7 linked regions of the Homo sapiens genome follow. The protein of the gene in region 1 interacts with the protein of each later gene in a biochemical or structural test. Each region holds a gene or a part of one and is shown in the gene's direction. Other genes may lie near its edges. The genes, in order: LRRK1, LMAN1L, KIAA1217, CKAP2, ODF2, MTG1 and SNX21.

Region 1 (3,500 bases):
GGCCTGGGCCAGCTTGGGCAAGCCAAGATCAGATGTCTCTGTGTTCGGGAAGGTCTCCGTGTGGGAAAGCCCTTGGGGGATCCCGGGTGAGGAGTGTTGCCCCATCCAGAGAATGAATGAGTTCCTTTAAGTGCCACCGCCAGCAAGCCCAGAGGCACACAGTCCGAGTGCACCCGCTTAGCCTTTACATTCCTCTCCACCGACAAAAGGAAGGGGAAACTCAATCAGCAGGACTTCAGAAAGGGCCTTGTGTTTATAGCTTTGTCAAGTAAATTTGGACGCAGCTGGAGCACAGGCCCTGTTTGTTTGCACATAATAATCTTGTTTATCACTTTAAAAAATTCAGTAATATCTCAGCAGTCAGGCTTCTGGTTGTGAAATCACATTGTATGGGATTTATACCAAATTATGTATTTGCTAAACATTCACTGCACACGTGTACAGCGGAGTACGAAAAGGAACGTTGTCCACAGGGGATTTATGGATACAACAGCAAACATTTTATAAACTATGCACATGCATTACACACATGCACACACATATGCACACACATGTGCAAACATAGCCACTTTTTTGTCAAGAGTTACCCTTTGGGGCTCCTTAAACCAGAATGGGAGTTTGAAAGAGAGATCATACTCCAGCTGAAGTTTGTTGACCCTTTTCTAAAATTAAAAAGATCAAATTTAGTATTTGCTGGATATGCAGGGAGATGAGACTCTTTTAATCTCAAAATAAACAGATTCTTTCAAGAACGAAGCTGTGGCCTCTGTCTTTTGAGCGCTTATGACCACAGCACGGGCTCAGTCCCTCCCAGACCCACTCGCTGTCTGGGGATAATGGGCAGCCCCTCCTTGCCCACTGTGCCAACATGCAGGTGGCCCCTGAGCAGCTTCCATGGGTGGAGACGCTGCTCTGTCAGTCACAGGCTTGGAAAAAGCGAGTCCCCCCACTCTTTTTTTTTTTTTTTTTTTTTTTTTTACCAACCTGGGCACCAAGTCCCAGGGGGCTGAGGGTCTGTGCTTCCTGTCTACCTCCCTGCCATTCTCTCACCCTCATCCCACAGCAGGGTCTCAGGAGTCCCACTCTCCCTCTCCTCTCATTCCAGTGCCCCACAACTGCCCAGTTAACCCCCAGATGCAAGCCAGATTCCATCTGCCCCAGGCCCCAAGCTTTTGCTTTGGCATCACGCGAGGCCAGGCTGCTTTGCAGGCACCAAAATTCACCCTCTCCTACTCCTGGAAAAGCCCAGCCCCAGGCCTCACAGAGCCAGGGGAGGGGATCTCATCACATCACAGTTAGAAATCATACAGGCCTAAAGTCCCAGCTACCCAGGAGCCAAGGCAGGAGGAACCCTTGAGCCTGGGAGTTGGAGGTTACAGTGAGCTATGATCACACCAGCTTTCTAGCCTGGGTGACAGAGCAAGACCCAACTCTTAAAAAAAAAAAAAAAATACAGGAAATGACTAATGAACTTGACTCCATGAAATTGAAACTTACGTGGAAAATTAGTCCAAAGCCTAAAAGACTAGCAACTGAGAAAAAAAAACATTGCAACACAAATGAGAGACAAAGACCTCACTTATCTTCATTACAGAGAGTTCGTAATGTCAATAAGAAACAGAAAACCGGAAAGGCAAACAGGTTAAGGGCATGGGCAGCAATTGAATTACAAAGAAACAGACAGACCCTTAAACATCAATGCTTGACCTCACCCAACAGCAGGGAAACAGTCTCCACAACAGTAAAATGTTGCTGGGATGGGCCCAGCATTCAGCATGGTCCCTGCAACTTTGGCCTCTGCCCAGTGACCTCTGGCGGGTGTAGAAGAGCTCATGCTTCAGTGAGGGGGTGGGGGGCACCCTGAGGACCCTGTCAACATCAGCTGGACCACAGGCATCTCAGATAGATGTCACTTACCACCCTCATGTTGGCAGAGGGTGGTAACCAGCCAGCATCTCCTTCTTAAACACCTACTAAGTGTCAGGCACTGTGACCGGAGACACAGTCAAGAATCTCTGTGTTTTTTTTGTTTTGTTTTGTTTTTGTTTTTTGAGACGGAGTCTCGCTCTGTTGCCCAGGCTGGAGTGCAATGGCGCGATCTCAGCTCACTGCCACCTCCGCCTCCCAGGTTCAAGCAATTCTCCTGCCTCAGCCTCCCGAGTAGCTGCGATTACAGGCGTGCACCACAATGCCTGGATAATTTTTGTATTTTCAGTAGAAACGGGGTTTCACCATGTTGGCCAGGATGGTCTTGAACTCCTGAGCTCAGGTGATCCGCCCGCCTCATCCTCCCAAAGTGCTGGGATTACAGGTGTGAGCTACCTGCGCTGGCCGAATCTCTGCTTTTAGGAGCTCACTCCTCATAGGTAGAGTTGACAATAAGCACACAAACAAGTGAGATAGCAGGGCAGCCGGACCACCCAGTTGGGCAATTCGTGGCTTGGCCTAGGAACGTTACATTTGACTGAGGCTGGCGAGGCCTGCAGCCTGCACCAGGAGGTACAATGTGAGACTGAGGAATGGGAAGAAGGCATTCCATGGAGCTCTGAGGGCACTGGGTGCAAGGGCCTTGCACATGCAAAGACCCTGTTGTGGGTTCAAGCCACTGTGTGGGAGGGACAGGAGAGCCTGGCGTGGCTGCGGCCTTGAAGGAGGGGACTGTGCACACAGAATTGCAAGTGGGGGTCTCCGCGGAAGCTCCTGGCAGTTTTAAGCAGGATTATTAGATGATTCAGTCAACTTTACAACTCACTTTGCTGAATGGAGGGTGGATTAACGAGGGGGTAGTTGGAGGCTACCCCTTGGAGGGCATTCTGGACTTATCTACCAAAATTTCAAATGCACATACCCTCTGACCCAGCAGTTCCACTTAAGTATTTGGTCCTGAAATCTTGGTAAAAGTGCCCAAAGATACAGAACAAGGATGTTCACTATAGCATCTCTTAGAATATGGCCCCAAACAGGAAGCAACCCCAACCTCTATCATGAGGGAGGTCATAAAATTCCTGCACATGCAACAGTGCCATCCTCTGCAGCCTGTCAAAGAGGCAGGCAGCACTAACTGCTGGACTGGAATGTTCTCCAAGATATAATAAATGCATTTGTTTGAAAGCAGCTTGCAGCACAGTGCGTCAGGCCTCTGAGCCCAAGCCAAGCCATCGCATCCCCTGTGACTTGCACGTATATGCCTAGATGGCCTGAAGTAACTGAAGAATCACAAAAGAAGTGAATATGCCCTGCCCCGCCTTAACTGATGACATTCCACCACAAAAGAAGTGAAAAAGGCCGGTCCTTGACTTAACTGATGACATTATCTTATGAAATTCCTTCTCCTGGCTCATCCTGGCTCAAAAAGCTCCCCCACTGAGCACGTTGCCACCCCCACTCCTGCCCGCCAGAGAACAAACCCCCTTTTTCCTTTACCTACCCAAATCTTATAAAACGGCCTCACGCCTATCTCCCTTCACTGACTCCCTTTTCGGACTCAGCCCACCTGCGCC
Region 2 (4,153 bases), about 26 Mb from region 1:
CCACCTCTCAAAAAAAAAAAAAAAGGCCAGGCGCAGTGGCTCACGCCTGTAATCCCAACACTTTGGGAGGCCAAGTCAGGCGGATCACGAGGTCAGAAGATCGAGACCACCCTGGTTAACACGGTGAAATCCCATCTCTACTAAAAAATACAAAAAATTAGCCAGGCATGGTGGCGGGCACCTGTAGTCCCAGCTACTTGGGAGGCTGAGGCAGAAGAATGGTGTGAACCCGGGAGGCAGAGCTTGCAGTGAGCCAAGATCGCGCCACTGCACTCCAGCCCGGGCGATAGAGCGAGACTCCGTCTCAAAAAATAAATAAATAAAATAAAATAAAAAATAAAAAACATAACCACAATACCATATTAGTTCTCAATTTTTTTTTTCGAAATGGATTTTTGCTCTTATCACCCAGGCTGGAGTGCAATGGTGCAATCTCCGCTCACTACAATCTCTGCCTCCCAGGTTCAAGTGATTCTCCTGCCTCAGCCTCCCAAGTAGCTGGGATTACAGGCATGCACCACCAGGCCTGGCTAATTTTTTGTATTTTTTTTTAGTAGAGACAGAGTTTCACAATGTTGGCCAGGCTGGTCTCGAACTCCTGACCTCAGGTGATCCACCTGCCTTGGGCTCCCAAAGTGCTAAGATTACAGACATGAGCCACAGTGCCCTAAAATTTTTAACAATTCCTCAATATAGTCAAATATCCATTGTTCAAAAATATCCATTGTTCAAATTTCCCCAATATCTTTTTTTTTTTTTGCAGTTGGGTTAAAATTTGGCTCCAAACAAGGTCTGCACGTTGCGTTTTTGTGCTGTCTCTAAAGACTCCCTTCTTTTTTCCATGTAATGCTTTTGTTGAGGAAACCAGGCTGCTTGGAAGGATGAGCCTGGGGGAATTCGGGAGAGGGAGAGAGGGGGCAGGGAGGAGAGAAGGATGGGTGTCCAGATAGATGTGCCATCCATGCTGGGGGACACAGGCAGAATGTGGAGGCCTGTCTCCCTAACTGGGAGGGGAGGCCAGGGCTGCTGAAGGGTGGGGGCCAACCCTGGGCACCCCCCCTTCCCCTCTGCCGCATCCAACTGCTGGAAGTGATGGGAGACAGAAAGATGGCCTGAGTCAGGAGCAGGGGCAGAGCTCAGGTTGTCGTGGGGTCCCGCTGCCCACGTCAGACTGGAGGTGAGGGATGGGCGGGGCCTGACAGCAGGCCTGGAAGGAACAGGATGTCTATGCTGGAGATAGAGGGAGAGGACAGTGCCAAAACCCAGCTCCTGGCCAGTCCCCAGCTCCTCCCTGCCTGGCCCTATCCCAGGATCCCCTCCCCGGCCTCCCAGCTATGATCTACCCCGGGGCCCAGACTTCAGGCGCCTTCACGATGCCGGCGGTCAGTGGTCCAGGTCCCTTATTCTGCCTTCTCCTCCTGCTCCTGGACCCCCACAGCCCTGAGACGGGGTGTCCTCCTCTACGCAGGTTTGAGTACAAGCTCAGCTTCAAAGGCCCAAGGCTGGCATTGCCTGGGGCTGGAATACCCTTCTGGAGCCATCATGGAGGTGAGGGGCAGGGGTGGGGACCAGCTATGCCCAGGGTCCCTCAAAGTGCTGGAGGGGCTGTGACTTGGTGGGGAGTGGGTCTGTCACAGCCATCCTCTGTCCAGGGTGGGGCAAGGCCTGGGACAGTGCCAGGCACCCCAGGACCCCTTCCAGGCTTGTCTCCTGCTCCACCGCCTCAACACCCCCCACCCCTGCCCAAGCTGTTTCTCCTCTGCCTCTCTGCTTCCCTGCCCCAGGACTTCTCTCTTCTCCTCTGCCTCTCCTTGGACCCCTGCCCTTCCTCTACCTCTGACCTGTGAACACACAGACACATGCTCACACACTAAGTCCCAGGCACACAGAAGGCAATGTGGACCAGCACAAACCTCCACTCTCCCGGCTCCATCCCAGCGGGCCTGTGGCTGGCCATGAGAACTGGGGGCTACCTGGAGGGAAGCATCCTCATCCCAGGTGAGTGGGCACCAGCCCTTCCCTGTATGTGTGTTGTGGGTGGAAGCAGGCATGAGAGCATCTTAGCCCATAGGTTTGTATTCAGGGACTTCCAAACCCAGACCTACAAAGAGTGTGTCTTCTACCAGATCTTGTTCAAAAAAGGGTTTGTGATGATGGAACTACACGATAGAGGGAGTGAGCAAGAACAATGAGGATTAGAGTGGAGCGTGAAATAGTCTAGGAGCATGGCTTCCAAAACATATGCTGTGAGGTCTGTCCACCTGAGAGTTGGGCCATGGATTTAATTCTGAGCCTCTTAGCAGGCAAAGCAAAGACAGAAAGCAGATCGGCTGTGGATTTCTGTCTATAAAATGTGAGTTCTTGGCCAGGTGCAGTGGCTCACGCCTGTAATCCCAGCACTTTGGGAGGCCAAGGCGGATGAATCACGAGGTCAAGAGGTTGAAAACCATCCTGGCCAAAATGGTGAAACCCTGACTCTACTAAAAATACAAAAATTAGCTGGGTGTGGTGGCGTGCGCCTGTAGTCCCAGCTCCTCAGGAGGCTGAGGCAGGAGAATTGCTTGAACCTGGGAGGCCAAGGTTGCAGTGAGCTGAGATCCTGCCATTGCACTTCAGCCTGGGCACAGAGCCAGACTCTGGCTCAAAAAAAAAAAAAAAAAAGATGTGAGTTCTGAGAAATGGCACGATTCCTAACTAAAGCCAGGACAAAATATCCCTTTTTTTTTTGTGAGATGGAGTTTCACTCTTGTTGCCCAGGCTGGAGTGCAGTGGTGTGATCTTGGCTCACTGCAACCTTCACCTCCCAGATTCAAGTGATTCTCCTGCCTCAGCCTCCTGAGTAGCTGGGATTACAGGTGTGTGCCACCACACGCAGCTAATTTTTGTTTTTGTTTTTGTTTTTTTTTTTTTGAGACGGAGTCTCGTTCTGTTGCCCAGGCTGGAGTGCAGTGGCGTGATCTCGGCTCACTGCAAGCTCCACCTCCTGGGTTCATGCCATTCTCCTGCCTCAGTCTCCCGAGTAGCTGGGACTACAGGTGCCTGCCACCACCCCCAGCTAATTTTTTGTACTTTTAGTAGAGATGGGGTTTCACCTTGTTAGCCAGGATGGTTTCGATCTCCTGACCTCGTGATCCGCCCGCCTTGGCCTCCCAAAGTGCTGGGATTACAGGCGAGCCACCGCGCCCAGCCTAATTTTTGTATTTTTTAAGTAGAGACGGGTTGTCACCATGTTGGCCAGGCTGGTCTTGAACTACTGACCTCAGATGATCCGCCTGCCTCGGCTTCCCAAAGTGCTGGGATTATAGGCATGAGCCACCGCGCCCAGCCCAAAATATTCCTTTAAGATGATAGGCCCTGTCAGTAGGGTTTCTTCCAGTCCTCCTTCATAGAGACACAGGAGGTAACAAAAAGGTGGGCTGTTTCTCACAGCACCAAGCTGGGCCCTGCTTCAGGACCAGGATGGCAAAACTTATACAACACTCACTGCTATGGGCCTTGCCAAATCTGGGTGTCACAGATCATGTGAGGGAGCAGAGGCACCTTCTCCAAGATCACCCAGTGATGTGTGCATTGTCTGTTCATTCATTCGTTCACCCTGATGTTCCTCTGTGCCCAGCCCAGAGATACCAGGCAGAGTGAGGCTGAAGGAGCCCATGGTCTGGGGCAAGGTCTCACCCACAGGCCTTGTAAGGCTGAAAGCCTTCTGCAAGGATTTCAGAGGCAGTGACAGCTTCCAGAGGCCCTGGGACTTGTGGCCTTGCAGCTCTGAGCCTCCCTACCCCCATCCCTGGCCTTTATAGAGCAAACAGGCTGGATTAGCTGCCTCCAGAACGTCCTGGCAGAGTCTGGGCCCTGGGCCAGGTTCCAGGCTGGCAGGTTGGAGGGTGGGGAGCGAGCTCGAGTAGGGCCTCTGAGTTCCCTGCCCCCAGTTCCTGCCAAGACTGCCTCAGTTTCTCTCCCATTCCTTTTTCCTACCATGCAGGGCTCCTTCCTCCCCGCCCCACCACCGCCAGTGGCAATTCTCACACACATACTCCATCCTGCATTCTTTCATCGCAGTCCTGTGGGCCGGTTCTCACCTTCACATCTTTGCTTTCCTGCTTTCCTCACCTTGGAATGCCCCCTAGGTCCTGTCCACCAGGAAGCTCTGGCC
Region 3 (3,500 bases), on another chromosome or scaffold:
ATCAGCAAAATTTTTCCAGGGAAAGACTCTCTGGGGACTTGAATTTCTTTTTAAATAGACATATTTTATAATTTACCAATTCAGAAGCTTCCTACTCTATCTTGAAAACCTTCCAAAGTTCATATAGTAATAGAAAAGCTAATTTTGATAAAGGGAATTTCTCTAGCCTGAATTGGTTGAAACAAGTCAACATAATAATCATAAAAATCTAGCCAAAGAAATTGAGTCCAAAGAAGGTTTAAGCATGCTGCTACCTATTGTTATATATGAATCAAGGGGTATGAAAAATAAGATGTCCAGGCCAAGTGCAGTGGCTTACGCCTGTAATCCCAGCACTTTGGGAGGCTGAGGCAGGTGGATCACCTGAGCTCAGGAGTTCTAGACAAGCCTGGCCAACATGGTGAAAATCCATCTCTATTAAAAATACAAAAATTAGTCGGGTGTGGTGGCAGGTGCCTGTAATCTCAGCTACTCGGGAGGCTGAGGCAGGAGAATCACTTGAACCTGGGAGGTGGAGGTTGCAGTGAGCCAAGATCGCACCATCACACTCCAGCCTGGGGGACAAGAGCAAGACTTCATCTCAAAAGAAAAAAGAAAAATAAGGTGTCTAGATATTCAGTTATTCAATACCTTATTAGAACCACTGCTTCTCACTAAAAAATGTTAATATCACTTACTATTATATACCATGTAAAAAGAAGGCCAAAATTGTGAATGGAATGTGACCTGTCTACCTTACTGTTTTCACACACAAGTCAGAAAGCCCTGAAGTCCTCTTTAGCACAGTTTTATTATGAAAGGGCAATCCCTTCTTACTTGTTCAGTTACAGGGAATATCATAGCAGAAAGATTCCAGGAGACAGAAAGAGAAAGAACATGAAAGTTCTGGGATCATTAATGAAACAAAAGTTCTAACTCTCTCATGTAGCTAGAATAACAACAACAGTGAATGGCTTGATGATGCAGGACTAAGAAAAAATAAGGATTGGAAAATAGTATTCATTCTCTCCTTTCCAAAGTCCTCATGAAGTGAAATTCTAAGCATCAAAGAAAGGGACTCTTCCCGTCACTGCAGACAGCTAAGGGGTATAGGATAAACACTCATAGTGGTTCATGGGAACAGACCAATGTGACATCTGGAGAGGAATCTACCAAGATGTGCGATAAGTCTTGGAAGCCTGTGTTGCATACTTCACAGAAAGGATAACACACCTGTCCCCTTTGGCAGGCTTTGAGGTGCTGGTTGGGAAATGGTATGTTGCTGAGGGGATGGAACTTACGGGAGCAAGAATTTAGACCAGAAAACAATAAAGATAATTTGTCTCCTGCATATAATGTTGAGAGCCAGAATCCTACCTCCCACACTGACCTATCCTAGATAAAAGAGCATCAGGAGCTTGATTTTGCCATGACCATATTGAACTGTTTCCACCCCGGTTCTTGGATGATAAAAACCTGAATTTGCATGAAAACAGATTAGTTTAGATGTAATATTCTTTTGGGAATAGTGCTGAAATTATCAAAATTTTTGGCCAACCAAAGATGGTGTCTGCCTTCTTTCCAGAACCTAGCTCAGTGTCATCTGTGTGATTACCACGCACACACAACTTAATGTACATCCTTGAGCCTCACTTTTCAAGACGTTTAGTTATGGAGAGAATAAAACAAACCCTCTGCTGACCTGTGGAGTCATCTCTGTATGGGATCAAAATCTTGAAAGATTTTAGCTTTTGGTACTATGGGTATTCTTTGAGAGCCTCCACTCCCTTTTTTAAAAAAGATCTGCCAACCCTAGAGACTTCCATTTTGTAAAATTTCAGAAAATTCTATGGACTTCAGTTTTACATGTTAGAAAACCTTTTTAGAAAATCCAAATTATTCTATTTCCAGATTAACAATATAAGAAAAACTGACAAAACAGATGAATATTCACCTAAAATACAGTCATTATCACCAGTGTATTCTGACATATGATTGTAATTATGAATGTAATTTTACATGTTCACATTTTTCATTCCCCATAATGTAAAATAGCACAGGAAAAATTTTATCTCATACATCTTGCCAAGGTGACTCCCCACCTGTAATCAGCTTATCTCCAGAGGGTGGAATTGGAATGCTTGGGTATATGTGGGCCGGTTAGATTCTCTTTTCCTAGAGACCTGCACATAGACACACAGACACACAGAGACACACACATACCACATGGACACACAAAGACACAGACACACACAGACACACGACACACACACAAGACAGACACACCTACACATTCTCTCTACATTTAGACTCACTATTGCTGAAAGACCTAAACACTCCCCGCTAACTCCCCTCAGTCACATGTCAAAGGTGAAGAATAATTCTCTGGTCAAAAGAACTTGAGTCTGGAACTTTTGCCCTCAGCACTCCTACATGCTTCCCCCATTGTTTCTTACATGGGACAAAGTGACAAGGGTGAAGCTCATGCCATACTTCCTCCTCCAAGGACAGCTCAGAATCTGGCCCTGAACTCTTTTAGATATCTTGGTAACTAGGCTGACATGTAGCATTCCTGGGGAATGTATAGGAAGGAGGTGAATGGCACCTATCATTTATTGAGAGCCTTTTATGAGCCAAGCACTATGTGAAGTGGTTTCTATACATTATATGATGTAATCATCATGACAACCCAGTGAGATATGTACTATCATCATCTCCTTTTTACAGATGGAGAAACTGAGGCTCAGAGAGGTTAAGTAACTTGCCCGAGGCCACAAAGCCAGTAGGTGGCATAAAATGTCCAGGACTATTAAAGAATTCTACATATTCCATGCTGTTTACCACTGTGCAGTATTCTGCCTTGCAAATGAGAACTATAAGCCCCACCTCCACACAACAGAGAAGTTAATTCAGGAGTGAATTCTAAACATTTCAACCAGAATTCTTCAAAAATTGTTTCAGGACTAGATGCTAAGTAACTGCTCCTAAAGGATATTTACAATCATAAACACAGTAGAATTTGCATAATTATGCTGCTAAATATACACATGCCATTTTAAATATAACTGCCCTAGCTAGTATATTAGCACAATTATGCAGAAATAGGGGAAGAAAGAGGACAGCATTCTTGGTAGACTTCATTTTTTTAAATGCATCTGAGTACTATGTCAAAGAAAAATGTTAAAAACAGGAACATCAGAAACAATTACCGAAGCACAAAATTATAATCCATTGTCTCATCTATACCATGATGTTATTTAGAAATGCTTAATCTGTGTAAGTATTGTTAAAGAATTTTCAACCCCTTAAAGCTTAACTTCATGAGCACAGGGTCGTATAAAGAACCAATCCAATTTCTGTTGCAATTTCATAATATTAAAAAGCAAATAAATATGAGAGTGTTTTTCATATGAGAGTCTCAAGTGACATTTTACATCGAAGATGTGAAGCTGCAAAAACACCAGTGGGAGGCTGAGAAATCGGTGGCTGTGCTTTCTGTTGGCACTGCTGGGTTCTTATGC
Region 4 (3,500 bases), on another chromosome or scaffold:
TGTAGATTTGGATTATAATTTCCTTGACTGCATTAGAATTTTCTTTCATGGTTTCTCTTCTGTCATATGCAGGCAAATTTATATTGTGGAACAATATGACCTAAAAGTTTTTGTGTTTGAGTATGTTTTATAAGGTTGCTTTTTAAAATCTAAGGTAAATGCTTAATAATAATTGGGAAATACTTTATAATCTCAAATCAAAAAATGCATTCATGGAATCATTGAGCATAATTGACGTTGATATGTTTAATATTTCTTCAAGCTTGTGAACTATATATGCCATTAAAGTAAGATTACTTAAAAATATGATTTTTTCTTTTAACTTTATTTGACAGAGTTCTGTCAGCAATTTCAAAGTAACGTTTATATCTGCTTCTAACTATAGAGCTCGTCTGAGTGAGTGGAAAGCTGGCAAAGGAAGAGTGCTAAAAAGGCCCCCTAATTCAGTAGTTACTCAGCATGAGCCTGCAGGACAAAATGAAAAACCAGTTGGGTCTTTTTGGACTACCATGGCAGAAGAAGATGAACAAAGATTATTTACTGAAAAAGTAAACAACACATTTTCTGAATGCCTGAACTTGATTAATGAGGTAGAGTCTTTATATTTGCTTAGCATTTTATAGTTTGCAAATTACCTTCATAAGCATTATTTCATTAAATTATATTGTCAGTCTTTTTGACCAGGTGATGTTGGTGATACTATGTTGACTTAACATTAACTGTGAGGTTATTTTAACAATTATTTAATTGCGAGATACACTGCTTCATTCATTAATTGTGAGCTTATTAGCCTTTAACTGACTACATTTTGCATTGAGTTCATATAAATATACAGGTTGAGTATCCCTTATCCAAAATGCTTGGGACCAGAAGTAATTGAAGATGTTTTTTGTTGGATTTTGGAATATTTGCATATACATAATGAGTTATCTTGGGGATGAGATCCACAAAGTTCATTTACGTTTTGTTTGTTTGTTTGCTTTTGAGACAGTCACTCTCACCCAAGCTGGAGTGCAGTGGTGTGATCTCAGCTCACTGTAACCTCTGCCTCCTGGGTTGAAGCCCTTCTCCTGCCTCAGCCTCCAGAGTAGCTGGGATTACAAGTGTGCACCACACGCCTGGCTAATTTTTTGTATTTTTAGTAGAGACAGGGTTTCACCATGTTGGTCAGGCTGGTCTCAAACTCCTGACCTCATGTGATCCACCCACCTCGGCCTCCCAAAGTGCTGGGATTACAGGTGTGAGCCACTGCGCTCGGCCTCATTCATGTTTTATATACAGCTTATACACGTAGCCTAAAGATAGAATACTTTTTATAGTTTTGTGCATGAAGCAAAGTTTGTATACATTGAACCATTAGAAAGCAAAGGTGTCACTTTGTCAGCCACCCATGGGACAGTCTGGTTGTTTGGCAACACCATCATTCCTCACTCTGAATTTCCATGCTACCAATAAGCAATTATTCTCTTACATTTATTCACACATAATTAATTAACAGTTTAAAAAAAGACACATTAATACAGTGAAAAATATGTTCAGAGTAATTAAGCAGCACAGTAGCATCATCAGAACGCCTGTATCAGCTGTTAGACAATAGCAACAACAAACAGCAGCACGTTTTCAATCTCCATCTATGATGTTGTGTTTAATTAAGAGGTATTTTACACCGTGTTTTATTTTTTTAGGTGAGAAGAAACACCAGAAGCAGTTGAGGGACCAGGAAGTGGGTTCTCTAGGGATAAGGAGGCATTCTGCTGGGTGGCTTTTTAAGATATTTACTTCAGAGTCATCTGCCTCATTAGCAATGGTTTTTGTCTTAGAAGTTTCTCTTTGATTTTATAAAGGGACATGATTTCTTTTTCTGTTCTGGATAAATGCTGCTCTAGTTCTTCAGTAAGCCTGTTGCATACTTTCACCTTGTCGCCTGTAGGTACATTTTCTGCAGTGTTAATGATGGTCATCTGCATTGTGATGTTGATACTCAAAAGTTTTGGATTTCAGATTTTGGATTTTCAGATTAGGGATACTCAACCTGTATCAAAGGGATAATTGGGTTTTTTTACTGAATTACAAATATTTGATTTCTCTGAGCTAATTAATATGTAATACACTGAGGTGATATTTACTTACTGCTTCTAATATTTTGTTTCTTACATCTATTCATTATATTTACACATTATTTTTTACGTTCATTACACATTTTACCAAAGACTAGCAACACAAATACTGTGTGAGTCATTATTATCACAGATTAAGTTACCTAAAATACTCAAAAAAAAAATCCCATTCATCTGGTCAGGTGGGGTGGCTCACGCCTGTAATCCCAGCACTTTGGGAGGCCAAGGCGGGCGGATCACCCAAGGTCAGGAGTTTGAGACCAGCCTGGCCAACATGGTAAAACTCTGTCTCTACTAAAAATACAAAAATTAGCTGGGCATGGAGGCGGGTGCCTGTAATCTCAGCTACTCAGAAGGCTGAGGCTGGAGAATCGCTTGAACCTGGGAGGCAGAGGTTGCAGTGAGCCGAGATTGTGCCGTTGCACTCCAGCCTGGGCAACAAGAGCAAAACTCCGTCTCAAAAAAAAAAAAAAAAAAAAACAATCCCATTCATCTAAGCCAACATCATCATGTTTTTGAATTTATTGCAGAATTTTGCTATTTGGACCAAAATCCTATGGAGTATAATAATCAGCTCCAGAACAATATTCTGTTTAATAATAGATAATATCTTTGTTTCCTGACTGCTCTTTAATCTTGTTTTGGTCACCCACTAGTGTGTAAGATCCACAGCAAAACTGAATTCAAGGTATGATTTCAAACTTTACTCTTCATGAGCATCTTTTAACTTCTTGTGGTTCTGAACACCAGTAAAAGTTACAATCAGGAAAACTCTTGAGTCTCTAATAGAATAGAATTAGAGTTTATTTCTGCTCAGTTTAAGTTTTTCCTTTTGATACTATGAACTTTTTCTGCCCTATTATTTAATTATATGTAACTGTGACATAAACCATTACAGATTCATTTTAATCTTAATATCAAAACCTGATAAAGACGAGGAAAAAAAACTCCGCAGACTATTCTTACTCATAAACATTTGGTAGAAGGTATTAACAAATGGAATCCCACAATATATATGAGGATAAAATCAAGATCAAATAAGTGTTCATTTTTTACTAATAAATTTCTCAACTAATGTTTCATTTTTTTGCTTTATGCTTAGGGCTATCGTTATCATTGATCTTGACTATAGTAGGCTCAATTATTGTTCCCACTTTGTAAGCTAAAAAATATTACACACATTTTTTCTTGCTTTTTTAGGGATGTCCAAAAGAAGATATACTGGTCACACTGAATGACCTGATTAAAAATATTCCAGATGCCAAAAAGCTTGTTAAGTATTGGATATGTCTTGCACTTATTGAACCAATCACAAGTCCTATTGAAAATATTATTGCAATCTATGAGAAAGCCATTCTGGCAGGGGCTCAGGTAAGATAAAAA
Region 5 (3,500 bases), on another chromosome or scaffold:
CAGCTACTGAGGAGGCTGAGGTGGGAGGATCACTTGAGTCCAGGATATCAAGGTTGCAGTGAGCTATGATCCATGATTACAACATGCACTCCAGCTTGGGTGACAGAGCTAGACTGTGTCTCTAAAAGAAATAAAAAGGTTAAAATGACAAGTTTTATGTTACATATATTTTACCACAATTTTTAAAAGTTAATAATGGAATATACCAAAGCCATTTAATTGTATACTTTATTTTTTCTTCTAGCTTTATTGAGGTATATTTGACAAACAGAAGTAGTATACATTTTAAGATGTTCATCGTGATGATTTGATACCCATATACATTGTAAAGTGACCACCTCAATCAAGCTGATTAACACATCCATCACGTCACATGGTTACCTTTTTGTGTGTGTGTGGTGACAACACTTAAGATCTCCTAGCAGATTTCAAGTATATAATACATCATTAATTATAGTCACCATGCTGTACACTTTAAATGGTGTTCAAATTTATATCTCAATAAAGCTGTTTTTAAAAATCAAGTAACAGCTGGGCATGGTGGCTCACGCCTGTAATCCCAGCACTTTGGGAGGCCAAGGCGGGCAGATCACCTGAGGTCAGGAGTTTGAGACCAGCCTGGCTAACATGGTGAAACCCTGTCTCTGCTAAAAATACAAAAATTAGCCGGGCGTGGTGGCAGTTATCTGTAATCCCAGCTACTCGGGAGGCTGAGGCAGGAGAATCGCTTGAACCTGGGAGGCAGAGGTTGCAGTGAGCCGAGATCGTGCCATCGCACTCCAGCCTGGGGGACAAGAGCGAGACTTCCTCTCTAAAAAATAAAAAAAATTAAAAAAAATTAACACATAAATACAATATGATATTATTTTCCTAAAGTTACACATGAATCCCTTTCCCCTTCCCCCAGAGACAAACAGTATTTCTCTTGATGCAGCAAAATGCTGTTTCATTACAGAGAAACAGTATTTCAATACAGTATTCTGTACAGTATTTTCAATACAGAGAAATACAGTATTTCTCTGTAGATGTAGAGAAAAAGGATGGGAAGGATACTCCTCAAACTAATAGCAGTAGGGTAGGGTTTGGAGGTGGGTACAGGAGGAACTGTAGCTTTATTAGCATTCACTATTTTATAGTGAGAATATATTCACATTACTTTTCAAATTAGAACTACAGTTTTTTGGGCCAGGTGTGGTGGCTCACACCTGTAATCCCAGCACTTGGGGAGGCCAAAGCAGGCAGATTGTTTGAACCCAGGAGTTCAAGACCAGCCTGGGCAAACAGGGAGACCCTCCAACTCTACAAATAATAATAATGTTTAAAAAGTTGGGCATGGTAGTGCATGCTTGTTGTTCCAGCTACTTTGGAGGCTGAGATGGGAGGATGGCTTGAGCCCAGAAGGACCAGGCTGCAGTGAGCCATGATTGCACCACTGCACTCCAGCCTGGGCAACAGAGTAAGACTCTAAAAAAAAAAAAAAATACAATTTTTGGAAAAGGTAAAGAATCAATAAAATGTAGACATCTGGGTTTATTGCTTAATGACTTGACTTTTTCCTTTGCCTTTCTTTGAAGGATTCTGAAAGACTAATGGAGCAACAAGGAGCACTGCTGAAACGGCTGGCGGAGGCCGACTCAGAGAAAGCGGTAACTAAGGCTGCCCTTGTCTACTCTAGTGGGTACAGGTGGCAAGAGCGTCGTTCCACTACAAAGTGTAGAGGTGCTTGGATCAAGGCAGGAGGGCTGGAGCATTTCGCTAGGTCTTAGTTTCACGATCTGTAAAATGGGCTGATGTCCTCCTGTCACGCTTGTTCTGATAGGCTTGTCTAGTTAGTTACTTGAGACCTTGAGCCACAAAGCTGGACACCAACATAGAGAGGGTAATGATGATGTTGGATTTGTAAATCATCCGTGTCTGTTAAAGCTGGATTTCCATCAAATTAGTATTATGGATTCAAAGCCATCAAAAAGTACACACCTTTGGACTCAGTAATCCTAATTCTAGGAATCTCTCCCAAAGCAGCATGTTCCAAAGTCTGTTCATGGAACCCTAAGTTCCTCAAGATGTTAATGAGTGCAAGAAACCGAAGGGGAGGTTCCATAGCCAGTTAAATTTGGGAAACCATAGGCTGGCCTGAACATGAAGTTCAACAGCTTCTTTCAAGACTTTTTTGGAGTGTCTGCTGTATTAATGCTTTTGTAAGTCTCCAAGAGAGGGGAGGGAGACGGAGGCCCAGTTTCCCAAGGTGTGGTCTGTGGCCTCTGATGCTTAGTTGAGGAAGGAGTGGAGATGCAGCAAGCTCGGCGATAATGCCTAAATGTGCATTCCCAGCTCAAGAACCCTTGTTAAGTTATGATATACATCAGTAACTTGAACCGTCAAGCAGCTCTTTCAAAAGACACAGAAGATTTAATCACATTATGGTAAACATGAGCTTTTAGGCTATGGAACGAAGTAGGCATATGACTTTTTTTTTTTAACGGTGCTGAGCATATGAGTTTCAATGTGCATTAACTGGTTATCTCTGCATGGGGGGTTACGGGGTTTCTTTGGAGGATTTTTTTGGTGTGTTCTCAATGTTTTCTACAGTTAACATTGCTGTTCTTAAATTGCAAAATAAATACATGTTCATTGTTTTAAAAAAATGTTTTAATGCATATGTTAGGTGCTTCCTACCAGAATCTCTGACATGGGCCAATGTATGTAGGACCTTGGGCCCCAGTGGCCAGGTACTCACAAATCTCTGTCCTCCCTGGGCCGGGCCTCTTTGCCCTTCCCAGGGGCACCTGACAGCCTGTGTTCTCTCCCAGCGCCTGCTGTTACTGCTGCAAGACAAGGACAAGGAGGTGGAAGAGCTCCTTCAGGAAATACAATGTGAGAAGGTAGTGTGCTTTTTTTTTTTTTTTTTTTAGACGGAGTCTCGCTCTGTCGCCAGGCTGGAGTGCAATGGCGCGATCTCAGCTCGCTGCAACCTCTGCCTCCCGGATTTGAGTGATTCTCCTGCCTCAGCCTCCCGAGTAGCTGGGACTACAGGCGTGCGCCACCACGCCCAGCTAATTTTTGTATTTTTAGTAGAGACGGGGTTTCACCATGTTGGCCAGGATGGTCTTGATCTCTTGACCTCGTGATCTGCCTGCCTCGGCCTCCCAAAGTGCTGGATTACAGGCATGAGCCACTGCGCCCAGCCGCAGTTGTGCATTTTTATGAGCCAGTAGAATATAATGGATATGCAGAGAGCTGGGTTCAAATCCTGTCTTTGGGCCGGGTGCAGTAGCTCATGTCTGGCACTTTTTCGAGACCAGCCTAGGCCACTCCCTAGCACTTTGGGAGGCCAATGCAGGAGGACTCATTGAGGCCAGGAGTTTGAGACTGTCCTGGGCAACACAGGGAGACCCCATCTCTACAAAATTAAAATTAAAATTAAAAAATCAGCCAGGTGTGGTGGCATGCACCTGTAGTTCCAGCTACTCTGGATGCTGAGATGGGAGGATCACTTGAGC
Region 6 (3,500 bases), on another chromosome or scaffold:
TTAGATAGCAGTAGCAAAATTAGTGAAAGTACCGAAAGTCTCTGATAAGCAGAAATAATGGCGTAAGCTGTCTCTCTTTCTCCCTCTCTCTCTGCCTTGGCTGCCAGGCAGGGAAGGGCCCCTTGTCCAGTGGACACATGACCCACGTGACCTTACCTGTCATTGGAGATGGCTCACACTCCTTACCCTGCCCCTTTTGCTTTGTATCCAATAAATATTAGTGCAGCCAGACATTTGGGGCCACTACCGGTCTCTGCATCTTGGTGGTAGTGGTCCCCCAGGCACAGCTGTCTTTTCTTTTATCTCTTTGTCTTGTGTCTTATTTTCTTTTTTTTTTTTTGAGGCAGAGTCTTGCTCTGTCGCCCAGGCTGGAGTGCAGTGGCGCAATCTTGACTCACTGCAAGCTCTGCCTCCCGGGTTCACGCCATTCTCCTGCCTCAGCCTCCTGAGCAGCCGGGACTACAGGCGCCCGCCACCATGCCCGGCTAATTTTTTGTATCTTTAGTAGAGACGGGGTTTCACTGTGTTAGCCAGGATGGTCTCAATCTCCTGACCTCATGATCCGCCCGCCTCGGCCTCCCAAAGTGCTGGTATTACAGGCGTGAGTCACTGCGTCCAGCCTGTTTTTTTTTTTTTTTTAAATCATCGCAAGTGTTTTCACTAGTTGGTACTTTTACGTCATATCAGTGGCAACTCCTGCCTTTGAAAATGTGACTTTTTGTAGACTGGTGGGTGGCCGTCTAGTATAGGGCACAGCAGTGTCTGACCTGGTCAGAGAAAGGCCAGTGCTTCTGAAGAATCGGGAGAGAGGTAGACTTGCCCCTGGGTGGCCCTGCCTTCTGCCTCCCTGAGCAGGGACACCCAAGTACATTTACTACCCAGAGTGTGTGGCTTCAGGTGTGTGTCTTATGTTTGATCTCTCCATCCGTGTCATCTTCGTGGACAGCTAAATAAAACCAGCTGAATCAGTGAAGGACTTGTTGATTTAAACATCAGTCATACTTTAGGTCAGATGATTAACAGCACTGATGTTTAGAAATATGATACTGCTTTGCACTAGTTTCACTGCATGTTAAGGCCAGTGAATTCAAAAATTATCTGGGCGTGGTGGCGCATGCCTGTAATCCCTGCTACTTGGGAGGCTGAGGCATGAGAATCGCTTGAACCAGGGAGGCGGAGGTTGCAGGGAGCCGAGATTGTGCTACTGCACTCCAGCCTGGGTGACAGAGCCAAGACTCCAGTAAAAAAAGTAACATAGAAATGTTTTGTGTCTTTCAGAAAATTATGCAACACTTAGAAGGAGAAGGCCTAAAAAATGTCATTTTTACCAACTGTGTAAAGGATGAAAATGTCAAGCAGGTAGGCTTTTCGTCTGTGCTCTCTCTGACGCTTCTGCTTCAGTAGGTTCGAGGAGCATTATAAACTGTTTTATGCTTTAGTAAGAAGCAGAGCTTTGGAAAAGATCCTAGGTGTTGGTTTCCAGCTGCCACACACGGATGCGATCTCCTGGGGCAAGTGGGTCTCCCTGTACTGAGGGCACAAGGTCAGGCTGTAGACGCATTCCAGGGTTGTAGGTGGTCAGAGTCTTTTGGAGACTCAGGTAGCTCATGTTTCCAGTTGTATGTGGTAGAATTTTCTGGCTTGATGTGTTTCTTCATTAAAAGGTAGTTACAGCTGTCACTGAAGCCCCGGGTCTGCCCTGCTTGTTTTTGATGGGAGGGGACGGGCATAGGTGGTCCCCGGCCCCAGAGCTCAGTCTGACATCTGTGACCTGGACAGAACTCCAGTTTCCCAACACCGGATACTTGGTGTGCTACCTCCAGATGAAGGGTGACGCCCAGTTTGCCTATGAAATGTTGGGTAGAATTCCAGATAGGAGGTTTCTGTTTTCCTAACGGATATGTGAAAGTGGAGACACTGGAATCCCTAATCCTGTTCTGAGGTGGCAGAAGGAGCGGGTCAGTGCACAGACGTCCGACCTGGGGTGGCTCCATGAGTGGGTGTTTGTTGCAGATCATCCCGATGGTCACTGAACTGATTGGGAGAAGCCACCGCTACCACCGAAAAGAGGTTGGTTGGTGGGGCCCAGAGCTGGGAGTGGGAGGCGGGCGTGGGATGGGCCAGCCCCTCCTGCCTGGCCTCTCCAAGGAGAAGGCGCAGCGCCCCAGGCAGGGAGGCCCCTCCTTTGTCCTCTCATTCTCTTCAGTGGAAAGGGCCGAGGCCGTCCCCGCTGGGTGGGCAGAGCCTCGGCGTTAACCTCCCTTCTTCCCTGAGCTGACCTGGCCTGGGGTCCCCTTGCCTGGGTGGGGTTGCAGAGTCTCAGGCTCTAGCGGCCACGGTGGGCCCTGTGACCCCTCTCTCTGCCTGCGCAGAACCTGGAGTACTGTATCATGGTCATTGGGGTCCCCAACGTGGGCAAGTCCTCCCTCATCAACTCCCTCCGGAGGCAGCACCTCAGGAAAGGTACTGGCGCGTGCGGCTGATCACCTCAGGAAAGGTACTGGCGCGTGTGGCTGATGTGCTGATGCCACCATCTTTCTTGGAGGGGACGTGCCCGAGGAGCACTGCCAGTCTTCTGCTGACCCCGCAGCCCCAGAGCACATCTTGTCTCGTTCAGTCCAGTTCACAGGAGGGCTGAACAGTGGGACCAGGTCGTTCTGTGAATTTCACACTTAATTTTTCTCTCTTTTAAAATCTTTAACATGAAGATGGCTTTTCTAAACTTTGATATTTGTTCATTTATTTAAATCCCTTTGGCCGGGTGCATGGCTCACGCCTGTAATCCCAGCACTTTGAGAGGCCGAGGCGGGCGGATCATGAGGTCAGGAGATTGAGACCATTCTTGCTGAAACGGTGAAACCCCGTCTCTACTAAAAATACGAAAAATTAGGTGGGTGTGGTGGCGGGCACCTGTAGTCCCAGCCACTTAGGAGGCTGAGGCAGGAGAATGGCGTGAACCCGGGAGGCGGAGCTTGCAGTGAGTTGAGATTGTGCCACTGCGTTCCAGCCTGGGCGACAGAGCGAGACTCCGTCTCAAAAAAAAAAAGAAAAGAAAAGAAAAAAAATCCCTTTGATCCAGAGAATACAAAGCGTGTGAAGTAGACGGGGCTGGATTATCAGGCAGGGAGGCTGCAAGGCCATTCCTCCATGGCGTCCGCCTTGCCTTTGCTGGAGGGTTCCTGGACTCCGGAGTCGCAGGCGCTCCTTTCCTCCCTCTGTGCCTGTTCTCAGACTCTGATTCAAAGCAGGAGCCCCGAGCACCCTTCACTGCCCCGTGGGCTCTTTTCCTTAAGTATTTTCAAGTTTAATTCAAGTCCTTGTTGGCTTCATTTTTCATATTAATAAGGCATTTATTAACAAACCCATTCATGATGTGCAAATCTGAAGGCTTTAAACTACGGTGAACTGTTATTTTACAGAGAGGGTGTTTTTGGTGCTAATTGGAGCATTGTTACAGTCATTTATTCTTTTAAGTTTATTTTTAAGCGTATTATTTTTTA
Region 7 (3,489 bases), on another chromosome or scaffold:
TGGCTGGGGTTTCAGCTTATGTCTGGTTTTCCAGAGGGGGCTGTCAGAAGAACTAATGCTCTATGGGAAGGGAGTACAAAAAAAGGGGCAGCAGCCCCGGGCACTGAAGCTCATCTCTGTCTTTCTCTCTTCTTGCTGCCTTGGGCCTGGGTCATTTCAGACAAACCTCAGGTAAGATGGGACTGGGCTTCCCCGCCACTGCGCAGCAGCTCCCGCCCTCCTGGGTGCTGTCCCAGGGGTGAAAGGAAGAGGTGGGGAGGTACAGCTGGGAGTGTGGGGGATGGGGAAGGATGGGGAGGGAACGGGCCCGTGGACAACTTGCATTTGCCCTGACACCCACCCTCCCTGCAGCTCTACACCCTCGCCGTGATCGGCCCAGGACCGCCAGATTGCCAGCCAGCCCAGATCTCTCGCCGTTACTCGGACTTTGAGCGGCTGCACCGAAACCTGCAGCGGCAATTCCGGGGCCCAATGGCTGCCATCTCCTTCCCCCGTAAGCGGCTGCGCCGGAATTTTACTGCAGAGACCATTGCCCGCCGTAGCCGGGCCTTTGAGCAGTTTTTGGGTCACCTGCAGGCAGTGCCTGAGCTGCGCCATGCCCCGGACCTGCAGGACTTCTTCGTGCTGCCGGAGCTGCGGCGGGCACAGAGCCTCACCTGTACTGGCCTCTATCGTGAGGCTCTGGCACTCTGGGCCAATGCCTGGCAGCTGCAAGCCCAGCTGGGCACCCCCTCTGGCCCAGACCGCCCCCTGCTGACCCTGGCTGGGCTGGCCGTGTGCCACCAGGAGCTGGAAGACCCTGGAGAGGCCCGGGCATGCTGTGAGAAGGCCCTGCAGCTGCTTGGGGACAAGAGCCTCCACCCTTTGCTGGCACCCTTTCTGGAGGCCCATGTCCGGCTCTCCTGGCGCCTGGGCCTGGACAAACGTCAATCAGAGGCTCGGCTCCAAGCCCTGCAGGAGGCAGGCCTTACCCCCACACCACCCCCCAGTCTCAAAGAATTGCTCATCAAGGAGGTGCTGGACTAACCCTTGCCTAGATTTAAGGCCACTGTGAGGAGAGGGGTTGCCCCAGAAGGCAGGGGAAGGACCTGATGAGAACAGAATAGCTGGGAGGCTGCAGAGGGTGCTGGGAGCCCCTAGAAGTTCCAAAAGAGAATGTGAAGCAGATCAAGGAAACTTCTGTTGAGCTAGGCTCAGGGTGAGCTTTGGCTGGGGTTGCCCTTGTGTAGTACAGGGAAGTCTGACACAGCCTCTCCAGCCTATAAACAGCCGGGGGGCTGTGGCACAGGTTGGGGCAATGTTCCCTTGTTGGTGGGCCCCCAAGCTGGCAAGGCCTCTTGGCTGAAGGCCAGGGACTCTGCCCCTGGAGTCCTGGAGTTAAGGGATGAAGGCAAGGCTGCAGGTCTGGCCCAGGGGAATTAAAAGCCAGCCACTCCAGTGGTATCAGTCTCTTTATTGGATGTGAGGGCCAAAAGGGACTGTAACTCCTGTCTCAGGAATGGGGATAGATGGGAGGTTCTTGAAGCCCCAGGCGAAGCTGGTACCTCTGGCTACAGCTTGCTCTCTGAGACCTGGGGCTTCACTCGGATCACGCCCTCCTGGGCACAGGTCACAGCTAGGACTCCATCCTGACGCCACAGCCGCCCATGGACCAGCCCCCGAGAGCCACCTGTGGGTGAGGTGAAGGGTGATGATGGCCTGCTTCAGAACAGCCAAATACACTTTTTTTTTTTTTCCTGAAACAGAGTCTCACTAAGTTGCCAGGCTGGTCTCAAGCGCCTGGGTTCAAGGGATCCTCCCGCCTCAGCCTCCTGAGCAGCTGGGATTACAGGCGCACATCACCATGCCCAACCTCCAAGTGGACTTCTTGCAAAGGGTCTGGCCCAGGGCAGGGCTGCCCCACACAAGGGTGCACTGAGTGTCGTGGCTGCTCCAAATGCCCCTTCATGAGCTTATTATGGACCGTCATTGAGGGGTAACTCCTCCCACAGGAACCCCAGTTGACAGTTTAAAAGCACTTTCACACCTCTCCTCGCTTCCTCAAAAAGATCACAGAGGGAGGAGCTCTGAGAACAGTCTCCTTCAACAGCTCGGCCAAGCAGAACTGCTGTACCTCTGACCACTTGTGTTAGGAAAACTATCGGCTCCCTGTATAATAAATCAAGCCAGGTCCTCCAAGTGGTAATTCATGAAAAATATCCCCACTACCACCACCAAGGGGAAGAAAGGACTCAGAAGAGAGGACTTGAGGCCATGAGGTCTGGCCTCTTCCCTCCCCATCTGGAGACTCTTTCTCCCTTGCTGGCTTTGGGCCCAAGTTTGATGTTTATGAGGATGATTGCTGGTTTCCCTTACACATAGCAGAGCTCACTCAGTTCTCACAGTAGCCAAATGAAGCAGTTATGTGTTGTCCAGTTTTCCAGACCAGGACTGAAATCCAGAGAGGGTCAGGAATTTGGCCCCATGATGAAGCCAAATCTGAACCCATGTCCTCACTTCAAGGTTATCAATCTTGGATTGTGATGCTATTGGTACTTGAGAATACCCCTTATCTGAGTATAAAGAATCCTTGAGTTTTGTCCTTGGTTTATCAAGCAAAGCTTTTCTTCATTTGAAATGTACTCCCTTGGAAAGGAGGTCAGGGTTCTGAAGCTAGACATTGATGAACGAGTCTTGTTTCTCTCCCCTGCAAGGAAGGTCCAAGCAGGCCCTTAGGGACCACTGAATGCCCCGATCCCAATCAGGTTAATCAGAATCACTTAGAGAACTTAAAAATACAGTTTCCTGGACCTTATCCAAGACCTACTGAGTGAGAATCTTGAGGGTGGAATCAGAATCTATTTTGAAAAGGCATCCCCAAATGGCAGTCTGATGGACTGCGGGTTTGGATACCACTGCTGTAATGTAACCCTCTTTGTTTAGATGAGGAAACTGAGGTTCAGATGGAAGATATGATTTGCCTATTGTAATACAAAGAATCTGAACTGGTTTTGGGACTAGAACTGGGTCCCTGGGAGAAGGTGAATCACATTTCCAGCACATTCTAGAAATTTAGAGCAGAGCAGGTGTCCCGGCCTCACCCTCTCATTTTGAAGATGAAGATGCCAAAGCCTGGGAGGGAAGGAAAGGAAGTGACCTGTGCAGCGCCACACAGGAAGTCGGGAAATCAGCATCACCCAAGAAAGCAGGCTCCTGCCACTCAAGGTCAGTGCCCTTGTCCCACACGGCCCCACACTCACCGGCCCAGGGGCTCTCGCATTCATAGAGCATCCAGTGGTCAGCTCGGAAGGGGGCGTGGAACCACATGGAATGGTCCAGTGAGACCATGAAGTGCACCTTGTGCTGCCACTGGTGAGGCAGCAGTGCAGTGCCCAAGAAGGCATAGTCGGAGATATAGGCGGCCACGCAGCAGTGCATCTTCATGTCGCCCTCGCCTGCAACAGGTCCCCATCAGCCCTGGGCTCCTGGGCTTTCCAGCTCAGGACCTGC

The links.
Region 2: the proteins of LRRK1 (region 1) and LMAN1L interact on a protein array, tested with the Homo sapiens proteins (one large-scale study listed by IntAct).
Region 3: the proteins of LRRK1 (region 1) and KIAA1217 interact on a protein array, tested with the Homo sapiens proteins (one large-scale study listed by IntAct).
Region 4: the proteins of LRRK1 (region 1) and CKAP2 form a complex in vitro, tested with the Homo sapiens proteins (2 studies listed by BioGRID and IntAct, with this or other methods).
Region 5: the proteins of LRRK1 (region 1) and ODF2 form a complex in vitro, tested with the Homo sapiens proteins (2 studies listed by BioGRID and IntAct, with this or other methods).
Region 6: the proteins of LRRK1 (region 1) and MTG1 form a complex in vitro, tested with the Homo sapiens proteins (one large-scale study listed by BioGRID).
Region 7: the proteins of LRRK1 (region 1) and SNX21 form a complex in vitro, tested with the Homo sapiens proteins (2 studies listed by BioGRID and IntAct, with this or other methods).

What each region holds. Positions count from the first base shown.
Region 1 is NC_000015.10:101,069,357-101,072,856, forward strand, and holds part of LRRK1 (leucine-rich repeat serine/threonine-protein kinase 1), read left to right. Parts: 3' UTR 1-3,500.
Region 2 is NC_000015.10:74,811,482-74,815,634, forward strand, and holds the start of LMAN1L (protein ERGIC-53-like precursor), read left to right. Parts: upstream 1-1,353; 5' UTR 1,354-1,373; coding exon 1,374-1,548; intron 1,549-4,153.
Region 3 is NC_000010.11:24,474,638-24,478,137, forward strand, and holds part of KIAA1217 (sickle tail protein homolog), read left to right. Parts: intron 1-3,500. UniProt on the Homo sapiens protein: Required for normal development of intervertebral disks.
Region 4 is NC_000013.11:52,461,978-52,465,477, forward strand, and holds part of CKAP2 (cytoskeleton-associated protein 2), read left to right. Parts: intron 1-385; coding exon 386-590; intron 591-3,317; coding exon 3,318-3,488; coding exon of another isoform or gene 3,489-3,497; exon of another isoform or gene 3,498-3,500. UniProt on the Homo sapiens protein: Possesses microtubule stabilizing properties. Involved in regulating aneuploidy, cell cycling, and cell death in a p53/TP53-dependent manner.
Region 5 is NC_000009.12:128,480,006-128,483,505, forward strand, and holds part of ODF2 (outer dense fiber protein 2), read left to right. Parts: intron 1-207; exon of another isoform or gene 208-811; intron 812-1,574; coding exon 1,575-1,646; intron 1,647-2,810; coding exon 2,811-2,882; intron 2,883-3,500. UniProt on the Homo sapiens protein: Seems to be a major component of sperm tail outer dense fibers (ODF).
Region 6 is NC_000010.11:133,397,157-133,400,656, forward strand, and holds part of MTG1 (mitochondrial ribosome-associated GTPase 1), read left to right. Parts: intron 1-1,278; coding exon 1,279-1,359; intron 1,360-2,013; coding exon 2,014-2,070; intron 2,071-2,372; coding exon 2,373-2,463; intron 2,464-3,500. UniProt on the Homo sapiens protein: Plays a role in the regulation of the mitochondrial ribosome assembly and of translational activity. Displays mitochondrial GTPase activity.
Region 7 is NC_000020.11:45,840,288-45,843,776, forward strand, and holds the end of SNX21 (sorting nexin-21), read left to right. Parts: exon of another isoform or gene 1-18; coding exon of another isoform or gene 19-171; intron 172-351; coding exon 352-1,026; 3' UTR 1,027-1,550; coding exon of another isoform or gene 1,551-1,669; 3' UTR 1,670-1,745; coding exon of another isoform or gene 1,746-1,756; 3' UTR 1,757-2,989; downstream 2,990-3,489. Other genes in the region: ACOT8 (acyl-coenzyme A thioesterase 8), read right to left, coding at 1,551-1,669, 3,240-3,434. UniProt on the Homo sapiens protein: Binds to membranes enriched in phosphatidylinositol 3-phosphate (PtdIns(P3)) and phosphatidylinositol 4,5-bisphosphate. May be involved in several stages of intracellular trafficking.